Homo sapiens: one gene and its partner. The protein of the gene in region 2 interacts with the protein of the main gene of each other region in a pairwise test. Each region holds a gene or a part of one and is shown on either strand. Other genes may lie near its edges.

Region 1 (3,971 bases), on a different chromosome or scaffold from region 2:
ACTCCGCAGGAACCACTGGAAGACAGGCTTCCGGGGAAAACGGCCTGGGGTTTACAAATAACCCAGGAAGCCCATGAGGGGCTCTCAGGTCCACCTCGGAGGCGAGCAGGGCAGGGCTTCCAGCTACGCAGGCGGAAGTGACTTGCGCAAACCCACCCGCAGAGAACAAGCCGCAGTCAGGGCCAGGGCCTGGGCTTGGCTGCAGGGGTCGGCGTCGGGGCTCTTCCCAGCTGGAGGTGAATGGTGCCTGGGGACCCAGGCTTTTCCTCCCCAGCAGGCACGTGGGCCGGTTTCCAGAAGACTAGGCTGGGTGGCAGGACGAACCGGGTCCCCAGCAGGTGGGACAGGGCACAGGGGATCTGACTTTCACAGGACGCCTGCTTGGTAAGGACACGTGACTCTCGCCAGCTCCTTTCAGCCCTGAGGGGCGGAGGGTGGGGGGTGGTCTCCTCATTTTACAACTGAAGAAACTGAGGCTCAGATAGGCTAAGGGGACCATGACCAGGATTCAAGCCCAGGTCTGAGGCCGCCATCCACAGTGCCTCTCCACAGCGCCCCACCTTCAGGGTCCCCACCGCTCCAGCCCAGTGAGCAGAGCAGCCCTGCTGCGACAGTCTCTTTATTTCCATCTCAGTCTCCCCTGCCTGCTCATTCCTGGGGCTCCAGGCCCCAAGCTCAGCAGCAGAGAGTTTATAAATAAATAAATTACAAAAGCGGGCAGGGAGTGGCCTGGCCAGCCCTCCCGGGGCTATGGCTCAGTGCTCAGTGAGTGACAGCTGCAGGATCCGCTGTAAGTCCTCCTCCTCCTGCTGCCCGCGCCGCTCCCGCTCCTCCTGCTCCCGTGAAGACAACTCCAGGGCCAGGCGCAGCTGCTCTTCAAAGCTGGGTGGACCGGGGGCTGGGGGTGTCCTGGGAGGGGATCCTGGGCCCCTGGGCTCTGTGGACAGCTGCAGGCTTTCCTGGAGGGCCCTTCCAGGCAGGGCAGGGGAGGGAAGAACAGGCCAGTGAGCGCCAAGGCTGGGGCAGAAGCCGAGGGGCTGGGGACCGGCTTTGGAGGACAAAGGCAAAGACAGGGTGGCAAGCAGAGGAGACAAGGCAGGGCCCTGCTTCCCCACCCCTCACACCACCTTTGGTGGCAGATAGCGCTGCTGACAGAGGGTGGCCTTGCAGAGGGCCTGGGGTCCTAGCACCTTCCTGCTATCCCCCTCCCCGCCAAGCCAGGGCTGGGGGGACAGGGACCCAGCCAGCCCCATGAGGGGCTCACCGCTCCAGCTGAAGCTGTTCCTCATAAACCGTGGCCTGGGGAGGAGGGCGGGCACCGGGCCGGGTGTTGGTCAGGGCTTCCCAGACGGTCACCTGCAGCCACCAGAGCCCACAGCTGTCACTTCTGCCGTGTGGCTGCAGAGGCCAGAGCCCACCCCCTGGGCAAGTCCCACCTGCTCCGCCTCAGTGCCCGCTTCAAGCAGGCTCTGCTGGATGGCGAACTGCAGGAGGTCATCGTCCTCGTCCCGGAGGGGCTCGTTGCGCTCCATGCCCAGCACGCTGTACCCGTTGGGCACTTCAAACACGGTGGGGTCCACCTCGCACGGGAAAGGGTTCCCTAGGCAGGTGGCAGAGGGGCCACGCTCAACCCGCGGGGCTTGGTGACCAGAAAGCTGTGCAGGCTCCCTCTTCCTCCCGTTGGGGTACCTGATGCGGCAACAGCAGAGCTGGGGGCCGGCACCCACACGGAGCTCAGGGGCTCATCACAGCCACACAGGTTGCTGAAGGTGATGCGGGCATTGAGCACGTGGAAAAGGGGAATCTCTGTGAGAAGACAGCCACGCCTGAGCCCTGGCGGAGAGCCACCTGTGCCTCCGGCCCCTGCAGCTCTCCAGGGACTGCGCTGAGGGAGGGTGCCATGCCTGAGGTCCTCCCGCTGCCTGTGCCCAGCCTCTCACCAATTTTGACGGGGAAGCCAGGTGGAAGGCGCAGAGTGATGAAGTCGCGCAGCTTGGCAAAGTGAGCGTTGCTGATGGCCATTAGGTCGATGATGGGGGTCACCTGGTCACCCAGGGAGAGCGGGTGCTCTTCACTCAGCCACAGTGTTGCCTTGAACCTGCCCAGCCGACCACAGGACATGGGTGAGGCACGGCTGGTGGCCCTTCCATTGAGGACTGCCCTCTGGTTCGTGGGCAGCTGCCTTTACCCACCTTCTGCCTGGCCTGGAGTGCCCTGCTCTGCTCAGATGCCGCTGCCCGCCTCCCCCGGGAGCTGGTGTCCTGGCCACGTGGCCCAAGCTGCCCTCCTCCCTGGGCCCAGGCTGGGGCTCCTGAGGATTTCGTACCAGCTCATCTGGTCTGGACAAGGAGGCCAGGTGCCAGGCTGTGGGCTTCTCTCTGGGCCTGGCCCACAGCCCCGTTTTCCTCCTCAGCCCAGAGCTGGTCACCAGCTCACGTGTTGCCAAACTTTTATGTCCAGCACACCCCAGGGCAAGACTGCCAGGGTTCGAATCCCAGCGACTGTTGGGTGGCTAAGAGAATCCTCCTGAGATGGTGGGGAGAGCGCTAGGCTTGTGCAGGCACTGTGCCTGCTGTTACCGCCTATACCTGCTCAAGGCTCCTCACGAGGCAAGAGCGTAACTGTTCTGTTCCACCAAGGCAGACGCTCCACTCCCAGGCCACGTCGCTGGGGGCCCTTCCCACTGTGCCACGCTGGCCCCAGCAGGTACTCATGAAATTCAATAGAAAACCATACATGGGTGGCACCATCCATTCATCAAAGACAAACTACCGGTTTTCTGTGCCAAGCCCCTTGCTAAGGGCTGAGGACCATGGATAAGGCAGACATGACTCCTGCCCTCCAGGAGTGGAGTCCAGAGAGAAGCCAGCCGAGGGAGTGGGTCCCTAACTATGACAGGCCCAGAGAGGGGTCTGCAAGAGCCCTTGTCCCGAGGCAAGTCCCCAGCCAGCTCTCAGACCTCACCTCTGTACTTTGCTGGACATCTCGATGGGGCGGCCAATGTTCCGTGACTCCAGGCTGAAGTTGGGGTCGAAGTACTCCTCAGGGGAGATGGCTGTGGGGTTGGTGGGGCTGGCTGCCTGCTGCACGGGGGCCTGCGTGGGTCCCAGGGCGGACTCAGCCATCAAGGTGACAGAGGGTGCCCTCCCGCCCAGGCTCGGCCCCCCGCCAGCCCTGTCTCGGCCCAGCCCCGGCTCACCCCGGTGTGGGAGGAATGCTGCTGCGCCATCCCCAGGAAGGACTGGAATGGAGTCTTCCCCGCTACGGAGAAGGGGTGGGAGCTGGTAAGGGGTCACAATGCTCGCATCGCCCCTGCCCACCTCCACCCCTGGAGCCTACTGTCTGGGGGAAGAGGGGTCAGACGGGAATGGGGAGGCCTCCCAGCTCATCCTGGGAAACTCTGGCCCCTAATCCCAGGCCAGGGTGACCCCACCACACGGTGTGACCGGGCAGCAGGCAGGCGCACCTGGGTTTACCTTTGCTCCTCGACTTGTCCTGATCAGAGAGGTGCTCCGTGCGTGTGCGTGTCACCAGCTCCACGTTGGTGGCACTGTACACCTGGGGAGCAGGGGACACGGGGAGCTGGGGGCTCAGAGCCTGCTCCCCACACTCAGCCTCACCAGTGCAGAACCCAGGTCCTCCTGTCCCAGAGACAGATGAGATCTTGCTCCCCAAAATGGAGGAGGTGGCAGGGTCTGAACCCCAGGAAGTCACCAACGAGGAGATGCAGCCCCAGGGTCAAGAGGAACACACTCCTCTTTTGATCTCGGTACCCTGGGTAGGGGCCCATGATGTGGGTGAGCCCTGTGTACTCCGCAGGGGCTGGGCACTCAGGCCCGCTGAGTTCCCACAAATGCTCAGGGTTTCCAGAGCCCAGGGGCTACTCTGGGATGGATGTGGAGAGGAGCTGAGTTCCTGGACCTCATCTCCTACCCCCAGCCCCCCACCCCTAGCCTCTCCTGCCTTGGCCT
Region 2 (7,164 bases):
AGGGAGCACGAAGGATCTAATTCCCACCCTGCTTGGAATATTCATCCTTCTGAAGTTTATCAGAAGACACAAGGCCAGCAGCAGAGCCCAGGAAGGGGGTGCAGATGAAACCATTGTTGAAGCTGGGTGAAAGGTATATGTGGGTTCATCGTATACTGCATAAATGTAAACTTTTCCATAACACGAGGTTTTTAAAAAACAACCTCTGTCACATGCATAAATTCAAAACATGTGATACAAGGCTTTTTTCCCCTAAAGCACCAAGAGAGTCATGGTGCCTAAAGCCATCCTCTTAAATTTGTATTTAATTGTTCTATAAATACAGTATCTACTGCTTCTGTTGTCACTTTGCAAATTCTGAGGTCAATCTCAGGAACAAGTCACAAAAAGTAGGAATAGCCAACAGTTATAGAGTTGCATATAGACCTGTGTTTGGAGAGTATGGGGAAGAATGGGGAAAGACATATAGCAGAGAACTTGTCAGTTCCAAATCACTGATTTCTTTCTCTCCTCTGGTGTGCCCAGACCTGGAGACAAGGACATACCCAGCCAGCAGACCAGGAGTATTAACCTTCACCTTCTGGTGGAAGGCCTTTTTTTTTCTTTTCTTTTCTTTTGGTACTTCATCAAATTCAACTGTGGCTTGACCGATATCTAAGTGCATTTACCTCTGAAATGATTCACAATAGTAAACTGATTTCAGCTTTTAATTTTAGAAGACAAAAAATAGTTTTTAAGAATCCTAAACTAGCTATGTTTGAGAAGACAATAGATTATGATTTTATAAAGAGCAAATTCCTAAAAATATATGCAAGATCATTACTGGCCCGTGGTATTTAGAGAAATGAAATGCACCCACCATTTGGCTGGACTTAGTCAGACAAACAGAATAGGTGGCATAACGGGTCTAATTCCTACCTTGTCTGGAATATCCATCCTTCTGTAGTTTTCCTGAACACTCATAGAGGCCAGTGGCAGAGCCCACAGGCAGAGCCACCAGGGTGGCGTTTTTTCATGAGGCACAAATCATGGCTTTCACTCACCACAGTCCAGCACGTACCCCAATAAGTTCATTCAACATGAAAGTATTTCAAAAGGAAAGCAAACTGACACTGGATGAAGTATACAATTTCAGGCGAGTCTCAAGGAACCTAACGTTCTTAATGTTCTTATTCAAACAATTACTTTGGGTTCAATTAGTTCTTCGAGTCCTTTTTTTTTTTTTTCAATTTGGTCTTGAATTGCAGTATGTGTGAAACTGCAAAAGCCGTTCTTACCATTCAGGACATACACTGATTATACATCTTACTAAAACCTAGCAGCATTGCTAGACTTTCAGATTTACACAGTGAGTTCATAGAAAGGTTATTTACGGTCGGCTGTGGTGGCTCATGCCTCTAATCCCCACACTTTGGGAGGCCGAGGCAGGAGGATCGCTTGAGCTCAGGAGTTGGAAACCAGCCTGGGCAACATGGGGAAACTCTGTCCCTTAAAAATAAAAATTAAAAATTAAAAAAAAAAGATATAAAGAGAGGTTATTTACTGTGCTCATCTTCCATAGTCATTCCACAAAGATGTGTTTCCAAGTCTCTCAACACCCAGAAAACGTCAAGGGGTTGGATGCCTTGGAAATTGTGAGATTGTTAGGAGGCAGGGGGGAGTGGCCACCCGGTGTCCATAGATACTGGCTGGCAGCAGCTTTTCTCTGAAGTTGGGCACTCTTTGGCCCCAGGCTCAGCGTTCCCGGTTGGAGGAGGGAGGAGTGGGTCCTGTAGAGCAGACATCTCTAGCTAGCTGCTGGGCACTCCAGGACTTTTGGCCAGCTCATCCATAATGACAGGTCCCGGTTCTCACAAACTGAATTCTGCACAGCAGCCTGCATGGCTCCAGGAACCCAGTGGGGTTAAGGCCTTCCTTTAATGACCAGGTACAAGCGCCAGTTCACACACACCCCCTCATTACCTCCTGAACTCGTCTGGGGGTCGAGCCACCCTACACATTTCACATTTACGTGTGTCTTAATGCAGAATAAAACAAGCGATGTGCCCCAGTCAAACTGTCCCATCTCACAAATACACCTACTATGTGCCAGGCATTCTTGATACATCAGTGAACAAAAATGATCAAAATCCCTGCCCTCCCAGCACAGACGTTGTCAGTGCAGCAAATACTCAATAACCAAAAGAAGTTTAATCATTTTCCTCCCACTTTCCTGCCACCCACACCCTGTCCTTCCAATCTCCCAAAGAGCTGGGTGTCTTTAATTCTATTAGCTTGACAGGGAAAATAAAATTCTTCAGCCTGCGCGCAACAGACACTACCCAGGTGCAACCCAATTCACCCCTGAACTCGACCGTCGCGGAACATTTTTCTCCAGCCTCCAAAAACTTCAGGTGGCGTGAGGCTCCCCCAACTGCAGCCCTGGAGGCCAACAAAGGGGCAATGGAGAGGAACGACCAGAGCCCCCTATCACCGGGATGACCGGGCGAACGGGGCGCGCGCGCGGTACTCACCGAGGAGCCGGCCCAGAACGGGCACGAGTTCTTCACCTGCGGGGAGCTGCTCAGCGACAGCGCCCCGAAGCTGAGCGCCACCATGCAGCAGCCCAAGATCAGCTGAAGCAGCCCAAGTGACAGCAGCGGGCGGGCGGGCAGCAGCGCGGAGCCCGGGGCCGCGGCGGCAGCGGCGGCGACTGCCCGGCGGGAGGAGAGCGCCGGCGGCGCGGCCAGCACCCCGGCAGCAGCGGTGGCCGCGCAGCGAGGCCGCGACGGGGGCTGCAGCGCGCCCCGGGGCCAGCGCGGCCGCAGCGGGGGCAGCGGCGGCTCCTGAGCGGCGGCGGCAGCGGCGCCCGGGCCCCCGGCCTGCGGCCCACCCGAAAGCCCAGCCACGGGGCAGCAGGAGCCCGGGAGCACCACGGGCAGGGACATGGACGGACGGGGAAGGGTGCGGCCGGGTGCGGCCGGCTGCGGCGGGCAGAGGACGCGGAGCGGAGCCGAGCCGAAGGCGCAGCACACTGGGCACTGCAGACGGGCTCCGAGGCCGAGGGGGAGGGAAGGAAATGCGCACGGCCCAACCACTTGCTGCCGCCGCTGCCGCTGCCCTGGCTCCAGCCGGCCGCACCCACCTGCCGCCTGGCGGGTCCGCCTCCCGCTGGCCCTGGGCGCACCCTCACTCTCACCCACGCGCACTCCGTGCTCGCGCTGTGCCGGGGCAAGTGCGCCACAGCCTCAGGGTCCCCGCCGAACCTGCGCCGGCTTCCTGGGGTCCTGGGAGGGTGCCCTGCCCCAAATATTTAAGTAAGTCCCTCGAGGTGGGAGGCACCTCACGGCCAGGACACGTCAGCGCCGGCCACCGAGAGTCTCAGCGTCTGTCCCCACCCGCCGAGCTGGGGCTAGAGAAGAGCGAGGAGCCTTCTCTGTCCAGCCACGAGAGAGGCCCTGGCGCGCTTTAGTGAGAAGGGGGCCCGCCCTTAAACTTTTGCCCAAGGAGGGGGATGCCTGGAGGAGGGGCTTTGGGGCGACTCGATGGGAAGAGGTGTAAGCCAAGGACTTCGGGAAGGACGACGCCGAGCGCAGTTACCGCTCACAGGGCGCAGGACGTGCCTACCTCGCATCGGCGCGGGAGTGCTTTCCCGGCATCTCGGTAGGAGCGGGAATGAAAGGACTGGGTTACCTTGGAAGCATCCAGCATCCGTAAAGAAAGTACCCGGGGCAGCCCGGAGTGCATGGCAAGTGTAACGCTCTGTCCTCTCATTGACTTATGAGCTATATCAGGCATCTATTAGGCATCACCTGATAGAACACGGAACCCCCAAACTTCCGAGGAAATATCCTAATAAAATCCTAAACTACTCTGGTAATTTATGAAAAATCTTTAGAGCAAAAAAAAAAAAAAAAAAAAAAAAAAGATTCCTCTTTGCAAAATGAATTCCCTTAATAATATACTTTTCACCTCGGAAGAATTCTAATGCGTAGAAAGTTTCGTGCCTAAAATGATTATAATGGACTTTTTTTCCTGATAAGAACCAGAGCAGTGTTCTTTGCAGTTAGTCAGTTCCAGTATTAGAAAGCTTATCTTACCATAAGGTATTTAACATCCTCCTACCCAATAAACCAAGAAAAGTATGTGTCAGTTTTTATGCTCTGCTTGTGGAAGCTGGATTTATATTGGTCGTTACACTTTAACCCAATGTAATATACTGTCAATGTGCCCAAGTTTACATGCACACTTCTTAAATTATTAAAGCACTTGTCTTTAATGGTGCCTAGGACTTCCTTTACAGACTGCTCCCATGAATAAATTCAAATTCTGGAGGAAAAGGGAAATGTCTTTCAAAATAAGTGTTTAAAGTCTGTTGATTCATGCAGGGGTTTTTTGTTTTGTTTTGTTTTGTTTGAGATGGTGTCTCGCTCTGTTGCCCAGGCTGGAGTGCAATGGCGTGATCTCGGCTCACTGCAACCTCCGCCTCCCGGGTTCAAGCGATTCTCCTGCCTCAGCCTCCAGAGTAGCTGGGACTACAGGTGCCCGCCACCACACCCAGCTAATTTTTATATTTTTTAATAGAGACGGGGTTTCACCATGTTGGCCAGGATGGTCTGGATCTCTTGACCTCGTGATCCGCCCGCCTCGGCCTCCCAAAGTGCTGGGATTACAGGCGTGAGCCACCGCGCCCGGCTTCATGCAGTTTTTAAAAATGCCATACAGTATATGCTCTTAAATTGCTGCTGATGTTAAATGAAAAGCTTCTTGGGGCTGAGGTTATACTCTATTTTATATACAAGCTTAACAGTATTTAATTTTTAACAATGTATTACACCATGCAATATAGTAAGTCTGACTGAGTCTTAAGAAATTCTCTCAGCTAAACAAATCTATTTCATTGGCCAGTTCTTGACACCTGAAACTTACTACAAAAAATGTATTATTTGTGTCTAAGAATGTTGCTGTTAGAAGTCAGGATATCCACTGGTCCTTGAGGAGGGACATGATTATGACTGGAAAGAGGGTTTCAAGGGGTGCTGGTGACTATTTCTTTCTTGATGTGGGTACTAATTACATGAGTAAGGTTCATTTTGTGAAAATTCATGGAGTTACAGTTATGATTTGTGTGCATCTCTGTGTATATTATATACTTAAATACTGTAAAGTATTTCCAAATACTTTATTCTTAAAATTTTTAAAGCCTTTTTCCCCATGCAGAAACAGATGATAGCAAAAATAACTGAAATCCGTGGATGATTTTATCATCTTAAAGGCTTTACTCATTTTATAAGGTGACTAAAACTTTTCCAAAGCTACTAATTAAGGGTTGTTGTACAGTCATTTGTTGTTGTTGTTGGCCACATTTATAACTGAGTTTCTTTTTCTGGTTATAAACACAAATCCATGTAACACTACCCCAACCTTTAAAATTATGCCAATAAAAATATCAAGTATTTGGGCTTGGTATTTTTGTAAACCAAGCTTGATTCTTTGCATCTCCCAAACCCTGCTTACATTAAGTCTTTAGTTAGACCTGAACAACCTGTATGTAACTAAGCTCTTATAGGATAATTCAGAGCCATTGATTTCCGTTTGTCTTAATAAAAAAAAAAAAAAAAACTGAAGACTTCTGAAAACAGTCTGGCAATTTCTCAGGAAGTCAAGTATAGTGTTTGTTGTCATTTGACCCACTTATTCCACTCCTAGGTATATACCCAAAAGAAATGAACATATTCACACAAAAACCAGTGCACAAGTAGCAGCATTATTCACAACAGCCAAAAGGTGGAAGCAATCCAAGTGTCAATCAACTGGATGAACGGATTAACAAAACATGGAATATGCAGCCAGTGGAGTATATTTGTCAGTAAAAAGGAATGAGGTGCTCATCTATGCTACATGTAGAAACCTTAAAAACATTATACTAAGTTTCAAAATATCATATGTACCCCATAATATGTACAACTATTATGTATCCACAATAATTAAAAATTTTGTAGACATTATGCTAAGTGAAAAAAGCCAGTCACAAATGACCACATATGATATGATTCCATTTATCTAAATTGTCTAGAATAGAGAAATTTGTAGAGACAGAAAGTAGCTTACCGGCTGCTTAGGGCTGGGGAAATGGGGAGATTGCGAGGGGATGATGGCTAAAGGATATGTGGGTTCTTTTTAAGGTGGTGAAAATGTTCTAAAATTGATTGTACTGATGATTGTACAACTCTGTGAATGTACTAAAAACCAGTGAATTGTACACTTTAATGGGTGAATTGTATGTACGGTATGTGAATTATATCTCAATAAAGTTATCAAAAAATTTAAAAATAAAGTGTGGAAGAACCTGTGAAAAATTTGCCCCAGATTCTTCATTAATGTAGGCCAAAGTTCAAGGAAACAATAGCTGGAGTGTGTTGTTTGGTGGAACCCAGCTGCCAGTTTTCCTCAAGATCAAAGCTCAACTCCAAGAAGGTTCCGTACACCTTCTACCAATGCTTCCCCTCCCTGTCCCTCATTTTCCACTCCTTGCACTAGGAGCCTCCTCCACTGAGGAGTTCAGGCTCTTTGCCCAGGTTTCTTGGACACCTTTTTTTTTTCTTTTTTGAGACAGAGTCTCTCTCTTTTGCCCAGGCTGGAGTGCAGTGACTTGATCTCAGCTCACCGCAACCTCCAGGCTCCCAGGAGCCTGGCTCCCAGCCTCCCAGGCTCAAGCAATTCTTCTGCCTCAGCCTCCTTTATAGCTGGGATTACAGGTGCACACCACCACACTCGGCTAATTTTTGTATTTGTATTTGTAGTAGCAACAGGGTTTCACCATGTTGGGCAGGCTGGTCTCGAACTCCTGACCTCGTGATCTGCCCACCTCAGCCTCCCAAGGACCCTTTAAATAAACTCCTCAGTTCCTTCCACACTTCTCAGAAGACCCCCATCTGTCAGCTAATTAAAGGAGGCTGTTCCACATCGGAGTGAGAGCTGCTGAAGAAACTCTTTAAAACCTGTTCCCTGGCAAGATCCTCCAGGTCTTATATTTTACAAAAAAGGAAGTGCTTCTCTGAATTAAGGCATAGTGGATTCTAGAAGTCTCAGTTAATATGCTGGCTGGAGCAGCTTCTCAAAGTGTGCTCCAAAGACCACAGGATCACGCCAGGGCGGGGAAGGGGAATGTCAAGTTAATTCACT

The links.
Region 1: the proteins of ENTREP1 (region 2) and ANKRD13D interact in binary tests that used the Homo sapiens proteins (3 or more experiments, as listed by UniProt).

What each region holds. Positions count from the first base shown.
Region 1 is NC_000011.10:67,299,117-67,303,087, reverse strand, and holds the end of ANKRD13D (ankyrin repeat domain-containing protein 13D), read right to left. Parts: coding exon 3,964-3,971; intron 3,559-3,963; coding exon 3,477-3,558; exon of another isoform or gene 3,467-3,476; intron 3,262-3,466; coding exon 3,200-3,261; intron 3,096-3,199; coding exon 2,965-3,095; intron 2,099-2,964; coding exon 1,941-2,098; intron 1,807-1,940; coding exon 1,690-1,806; intron 1,601-1,689; coding exon 1,437-1,600; intron 1,357-1,436; coding exon 1,265-1,356; intron 970-1,264; coding exon 756-969; 3' UTR 604-755; downstream 1-603. UniProt on the Homo sapiens protein: Ubiquitin-binding protein that specifically recognizes and binds 'Lys-63'-linked ubiquitin. Does not bind 'Lys-48'-linked ubiquitin.
Region 2 is NC_000009.12:69,321,073-69,328,236, reverse strand, and holds the start of ENTREP1 (endosomal transmembrane epsin interactor 1), read right to left. Parts: upstream 3,023-7,164; 5' UTR 2,928-3,022; coding exon 2,514-2,927; intron 1-2,513. UniProt on the Homo sapiens protein: Functions as an activator of the E3 ubiquitin protein ligase ITCH in the ubiquitination of the CXCL12-activated CXCR4 receptor. Thereby, triggers CXCR4 endocytosis and desensitization, negatively regulating the CXCL12/CXCR4 signaling pathway.